2 linked regions of the Homo sapiens genome follow. The protein of the gene in region 1 interacts with the protein of each later gene in a biochemical or structural test. Each region holds a gene or a part of one and is shown in the gene's direction. Other genes may lie near its edges.

Evidence for each region.
Region 2: the proteins of DMD (region 1) and RUNX2 interact in a surface display test, tested with the Homo sapiens proteins (one large-scale study listed by IntAct).

What each region holds. Positions count from the first base shown.
Region 1 is NC_000023.11:33,201,530-33,205,358, reverse strand, and holds part of DMD (dystrophin), read left to right. Parts: intron 1-3,829. UniProt on the Homo sapiens protein: Anchors the extracellular matrix to the cytoskeleton via F-actin. Ligand for dystroglycan.
Region 2 is NC_000006.12:45,544,501-45,548,329, forward strand, and holds part of RUNX2 (runt-related transcription factor 2), read left to right. Parts: intron 1-716; coding exon 717-782; intron 783-2,326; coding exon 2,327-2,805; 3' UTR 2,806-3,829. UniProt on the Homo sapiens protein: Transcription factor involved in osteoblastic differentiation and skeletal morphogenesis. Essential for the maturation of osteoblasts and both intramembranous and endochondral ossification.

The sequences.
Region 1 (3,829 bases):
ACGTATTTTCATCAAAGGCAAATTGAGTAATTCCTTTTTATGTTGGTGCTTAAGAACGATGTATTAGAAATAAATTGGTGACTAAGTGAACAAAATATTAATAAACTAGTTGAGTAAGTGAAAAAATAATAATCTGTAAAAATGATGAATCCCAATGACTCACATGTTGCAAAATAACTAGGAAGCAAAAGGGAAATTAGACTTTAAAGAGCGTAATCAGATGCAAGAAATGTTGGCTTGTAGGTGGTTAACTAAAATCGCTTACGGGAAGCTCAGACAGCTGGGGAATCCTGATTTAGTAGACGCTGAAGGGCAGGGCATGAGCCATGTGAACAGCTGCTGAAGAGCTAGAGGATTCCTTTGGATTAGGTGTACACACCCCGTCTCTAATGGGCTGTCAGAGAGCACCAAGTGTTATCACAGAGGTTCACTTTGCTCAAGCCTATGGCTTTTGCAGTGTTTTACTTTAAATGTCTGAAAATGGATTGGCTCTCAAAATAAATCCAAAAATAAAAGTATCAAAATAAGTGACTCTCTAAAACTTGTATTGTGTGGTTTTGGGTGACCACAGTTTAAAGAAGGGACTTACAGCTGATGATTTGTTATCCATTTATTGATTCATTTGTCCATGTAACAAATACACATATTGAGTGCCCATTTTGTGCCAGGTACTGTGCTATGCTCTGGCGATAGTATTCTAAACAAGTGAACTCAAAGAGAGACTAGCATTTCAAGGAGGATGTGCATATTAAATACACACACACGCAAACTACTTGCATTGGAGATAAGGGCTATAGAATAAAGCACACATTGTAATAAGAATGTATAATAGGGAGAGTTAGACCAGTCTTCGAAATTGGGGAAATACTTCTGAGAAAAAAAAAATATTCAAAGCAAGGCAAAGAAGAATGAGGTTAGAGTATAGTTGTCCAAAAGAAAAGAGGGAGCAAAAATGTCCCTGTCAGAGGGAGCAATGTTTCTGAATGTGGAAAATGGTATGGAGAAAGATCTAAAACAAGTACAGCTTTCCTAGAGTACAGTGAGGGCAGAAAAGTGTGGAACAAGCTTGCATCTGAATGGCCGACTGGGGTCCAATCATTCAGAGCCTTGAAGGTTATAGAAATTATTTTTCTCTTTATACTAAGATCAATGGACAGCCTTATGGGTTTCAGGTAGAAAACTGATGTAAACATATTTGTATTTTTTAAGACTATCACTCTGTTTTGTGTGAAAGAGATTGGCAAGTGCCTAGGGTAGATGAAGGACTATCAATCTGAAGCAATTACGGTAGCTCATCCAAAAGAAGGTGATTTGGACTAGAATGGGGACAGTGGAGATGAAAGAAGTAAATCTATTCAAGATTTGTATATGAGATAGAATCAATAGGAATTGGTGTTGTATTGCATGCTGTGTGCTCCATGAAATGCACACCTGGGTGGATAATGGTGCCATTTGCAAGGAGATTGGAAGGGAAATTGGAACAACAGGAAGGATTAGGGGTGTGGATGCTAAGGTGTTTGTTTTGTTTTGTATTTTTATGTAGCGCGTGGGTATTGTGCCTAGAAATGAAGTCATTATTAGGGATTTAAATATGCAACTCATGGAGTGGATGAGACCAGCTAGAAAGATAATAGAGTGTGAAGAGGAGATCGGAAATTCAATAAAGAAGACAAAAGCACTAAAAAAAAAAAATCAGAGAAGACACATCTAGAAAAAATGATGAAATTCTAAGGAAAATAATATTTCCATAAAGAGGTCTGTTCCTTTCGATCTCCAATTTAATGACTTCATGAATGAGGATCCCACTTTTAGCATTAGGTGTCTTGGTTTCCACAGTCTCTACCATCTATTTACCCCTAATTTCCTCCCATATTGCTATTTCTGTGAATATTACCAAAATGTTGCCTTAGTAGAAAAGCTTCAATAAATATTTAAATTGTATAACGTATTCAGCTTTTTCCTGTACTCTGCACTTCCTAAAAATACCTTCTTCGGAAACCCCATTTCAACTGACTACTGTATAATGAAATGAGCCTTCAGTGTAAAACATTTATCATAGTCTCAATTTCAATTGCTCAGTCAGAATTGTTGAGTAATATGAAAAATCATCCTTTAGAGAATACAGAATTGCATAGTTATGACAAGGTAAGTTTGCACTTTATTTAATGCTAGTTTAGTTAATATAGATGCTTATTGGAGAAATGTCTAAAAATTCTGGAGGACCGTTAGTGAAAGTGATTATCCCAATATCTGCAAAAATGGTAAAAATACCTAGAAAACATTGACATTTCAGTTTAAATAAAGCCAGAATCACAATAAAGAGATAGAAGGCATTTGAGTAATTCAATCTAATCATGGATGAATGTAATGTACTTATCAGTTAGCTTTGGAGGAAGTAAGACTCGATAGAATAGTAATATGATATTGAGCAACTTTTTTTAACATTAGGTTTTTAATTGCTTATAACTCAACATTGTTGAACACCTATGTTCTCTTTGCTTTTTATGAGACAGCAACTCTAAGTCAGAGAACAGATACACACACATATGTATATGCGTACAACTACTATAAAATATCAAGAAAGTTATAAAGCATGGTACAAATCAATCATAAATGATTACTTATGAATAGTGTGATTATGGACATTCTCATTGAAGAATCCATTTTTATAAATAGGCATAAGAGTATGGACATACAGAGATGTGAATTAGAGAATGATTGCAAGAAGCAGTGAGGCAAAAAGGATTAATGAAACATTGATCTGTCTTACATACACAGCTATTGACAGTACCTTGTGTGTGCATAGCACTATTCTAGATTCACCTAATCTTCAATGATAATACTGTATTTACCATTTAACAAGCCTGTAATAAGTGTCAGGCACTTCTCTGATTACATCACATACATATGTGATAAGTTCCATATTAACTCTAGAAGGTGGGGAAACATAATCATCTAAATTTACCAGATGAATATGTAGAGGTACAGGGAGATTAAGTAATTTGCTTAAGGTAGCTCAGCTGGTACGTGGTAGAGTCAGGATTTTAATGGTGGCAGCATGACAGTAGGATTAAAGATTCTTAACCAGTCAGTTGTCACGATCTCTCAGATTTTAATAGAATTCTAAAAAGGATAGAACAAAATATAAAATGGCAGGAATCATAGTATCTTCTAACAAGAACTAGACATGTCCCATTGAGGATGCTCTTTAAAAATAAAACCCATTAAAATTTTGGGTTGTTTACTCAAAGCCTATAGACATTGGCATATTATATTTTCTTAGATAAAAACTGAGATATCCTAAATAACTCATGCCCATTCTCTAGACTTGCATAGGGAGCTGTCTATGATAATATCCATAACAGTTATCTTGTTTCACAATTTTATTACTATCTCACTCTTCTTACTTTGTGAAGATGAAAAAGATCAAAAATAAAACTAATGCAGCCCTGGTTTGTTTGTAATCATCTACAGTTAGCCATCCTTAGAGTGGTCTCACTAGTTGTTCTTTTAGAGTTTATTTCAGTTATGTACAGGCAACTGTGCTACATGAACAAAAAGCTAAGAACTGGGCTAACCTGAACATGATTTAGTATTGTAAAAAAATGGTTTACATAGATTAACGTGCCATACTATTCTGAATAGTACTTGGCATAAACAGTAGGTTATTTAAGTTACTATAATTACTGTTGCCTTTTTACATAAACTAATTTTTCTCTTATCTTCATTATGTTAGTCATCCACAGTGTGATATTTAGTTGCATACATTCATATAGTGTACACTGTACAATTCTAGAGTGTACCAGTAACGTGGACTATTAATATTATG
Region 2 (3,829 bases), on another chromosome or scaffold:
TGTATTTTAAGTACAGATACACCTAAGAAGCAGTTTTTACATTAACATGTCTATCTGTGTGAACTCCATACTTCTGCAGGGGGCACACGTTGGCGTTTTAAGTGCGACTTCTTTCTGATACACGCTGTTCACATTATTCTGGTTCTTCTTATATGATCTAAATATTGAACTTAATGCATACAGAAGTGCCCTGCCCATCGCTGTTAGTTCTGCCAGCTCAAGGTCACCTGGATGCCCTGCAATGCAGAGGCTGCCTGAGGAACGTCTGTGGCCTCCATTTGGCCTCTGTATTGTACGAGGCAGGGCACAAGCACTGGGCGGGGGAAATGTTATGGAGCATCTGCTCCCATTTCTGATTCTGTCATAATCGCTGTTTCCACATTTTTAAATTTAAGCTTGTCAGAATTTCGTTTTTGGGAGGAATAGGTAGAGGCTAGTTGAGGATGGAAGAATTTATAAAAAGCAGAGAGTGACTGCCTGGGCTGTCAGTTTTGGTTCTTCATCTTGAAAGTGTTTGCTTCTGGCCTTAGAAGCTGCTCACTAGCTTTTACCCTCTGCTTATGGGCCTGCAGACTCTGGGAAATACTAATGAGGGATGGGAACCTCTCTGTCTACCCCTCCCCTAAGGCTGTTGCTTCTCCTTCTCTCTTGGAATTCATAGTCATAGAACATTAGAGCTGGAAGGGAACTTAGAGCTCATCCCCCTCATTTTACAGATGATGACACTGCCACCTCTGACTTCTGCCTCTGGCCTTCCACTCTCAGTAAGAAGAGCCAGGCAGGTGAGACTTTTAACAATTGCTGGGCTGGGCAGGGCTGGGCTGGGCTGGGCTGTCTGGTTGTTACTGTCCGATTTGTGAGTTTTGTTAACTATATGTTGCTTTTAAAGAGTCACTTTTTATTACAAATGCACATCATGGCACTTAACCCTTGCATTTTGTGAAGATTATAAGCAGTGTGCATTTTAACAAAAATTAATAACCTTCAATCAGCACCTTTAAAGAAAAGTGTTCGGATTATTCCCTTAATAAACATCGTAATATCCAAGAACAAGGTCTGAATAAAAATGAGGTGAAGAAGTACCCATTCATTAAAGTCCTCAAGAATTGTTTAGTGCTTTCCTTTATAGCTAAAAGCTGTAGGAGAAACAAATATATGAGATCTGAATAATCAAAATATTTTAGAAGGGAACAATATCTTAACAAGAGCACTGGTATTAGAAAAGGGCTTGTCACAATTCTGTCAATTCTAGAAAAATAATAATAAACCCAATCTTTAAAGGTCACAACTACAAGATTCTAGCATTTCAGAAAACAAATTTCCACATGAAATGGTTTATAACGGTGGTTTCATAACTTAGGCACCAGAAACATCTATTAAGGAGGCCTACTGTTAGCTTTAGAAGTGAAAGGACTTCATGTTTTAGGGGAAAACCATCTTTGCCTTCAGGTTACTGCTTCAAGTTGACCTGAAGCTGGTTCTGTAGGATGTGGTGCTGGGGCCTGGGAGACGGGTGGGGAGTGCCCTCCTCTTAATCTCCCCTAGGCAGCGAGCCTCTCGCAAAAGCTACTGTTAGCACCTGGTCTAAATCAGGTCACAAGTCTCCCATCAAGACTTGAAATCAATGATTCCTAAGGTACCAAGCCCCCTTGTGCCTCCTAACTCCCATTTTCAAAACCGACTGATCTAGTAGCTTATGACCCTCCCTATCCACCCCCAGAGAAGTTATGAGTTTCTGGTTTGATTTCACTGTTGCTAAGATGAGACCTCTGACAAGATTTTAAATTCTTTAAAGGCCTTAAAGGAAATGATAGGAACATGATAGGATATCTTTTTGATGTTCCTTCATTGATGAAAGAGCCTACCAAGAGTAAATAACAGTAAGACATTATTTTGGAATTTCTTTATATTGAGTTGAGGAAAATAAACTTGTCTGACTTAGTAAAAATTTCACTTCAAATATCTAAAGTGCAACGAGAAGCAAAAAGAGAAAAAAAATCCATGAGGATTTGGTTTTAAAGTCTGGTGAGTGAACCTATGTGATCAGAGTGTTGGGTTGGTTTACACATTGACCTGGCACACATGTGGGTTTTTAAAGCCCTCTGGGATTCTCTGGGGGTGAAGAACTTAAGGATCAATGCTGTTAAGACTGCAAAGTGGGGGAAAAAGACTGTAAAGTGACTGGTGCATTTGAAGGTCTGTCTGTGGCTTGCTGTTCCTTTATGGGAAAGCTAAAGTTTTCTCTTTTTTTTTCTTGTAACAATTCTATCATTATTTTAATTGATATTTACAGATTTTTCCCTCCATCTTCTGTTATAATTTTTAGGTGCTTCAGAACTGGGCCCTTTTTCAGACCCCAGGCAGTTCCCAAGCATTTCATCCCTCACTGAGAGCCGCTTCTCCAACCCACGAATGCACTATCCAGCCACCTTTACTTACACCCCGCCAGTCACCTCAGGCATGTCCCTCGGTATGTCCGCCACCACTCACTACCACACCTACCTGCCACCACCCTACCCCGGCTCTTCCCAAAGCCAGAGTGGACCCTTCCAGACCAGCAGCACTCCATATCTCTACTATGGCACTTCGTCAGGATCCTATCAGTTTCCCATGGTGCCGGGGGGAGACCGGTCTCCTTCCAGAATGCTTCCGCCATGCACCACCACCTCGAATGGCAGCACGCTATTAAATCCAAATTTGCCTAACCAGAATGATGGTGTTGACGCTGATGGAAGCCACAGCAGTTCCCCAACTGTTTTGAATTCTAGTGGCAGAATGGATGAATCTGTTTGGCGACCATATTGAAATTCCTCAGCAGTGGCCCAGTGGTATCTGGGGGCCACATCCCACACGTATCAATATATACATATATAGAGAGAGTGCATATATATGTATATCGATTAGCTATCTACAAAGTGCCTATTTTTTAGAAGATTTTTCATTCACTCACTCAGTCATGATCTTGCAGCCATAAGAGGGTAGATATTGAGAAGCAGAAGGCTCAAGAGAGACAATTGCAATCGAGCTTCAGATTGTTTACTATTTAAGATGTACTTTTACAAAGGAACAAAGAAGGGAAAAGGTATTTTTGTTTTTGTTGTTTGGTCTGTTATCATCAATAACCTGTTCATATGCCAATTCAGAGAGGTGGACTCCAGGTTCAGGAGGGAGAAGAGCAAAGCCGCTTCCTCTCTGTGCTTTGAAACTTCACACCCTCACGGTGGCAGCTGTGTATGGACCAGTGCCCTCCGCAGACAGCTCACAAAACCAGTTGAGGTGCACTAAAGGGACATGAGGTAGAATGGATGCTTCCATCACAGTACCATCATTCAGAATAACTCTTCCAATTTCTGCTTTCAGACATGCTGCAGGTCCTCATCTGAACTGTTGGGTTCGTTTTTTTTTTTTTTTTTCCTGCTCCAAGAAAGTGACTTCAAAAATAACTGATCAGGATAGATTATTTTATTTTACTTTTTAACACTCCTTCTCCCCTTTTCCCACTGAACCAAAAAGAAATCCCATCCCTAAAACCTGCCTTCTCCTTTTATGCAAAACTGAAAATGGCAATACATTATTATAGCCATAATGGTATAGATAGTGATTGCGTTTGGCTATGTGTTGTTTTCTTTTTTTTTAAATTATGAATATGTGTAAAATCTGAGGTAACTTGCTAACGTGAATGGTCATATAACTTTAAAGATATATTTATAATTATTTAATGACATTTGGACCCTTGAAACATTTCTTAGTGTATTGATATGTTGACTTCGGTCTCTAAAAGTGCTCTTTATTAAATAACAAATTTCTTCAGTGGTCTAGAGCCATATCT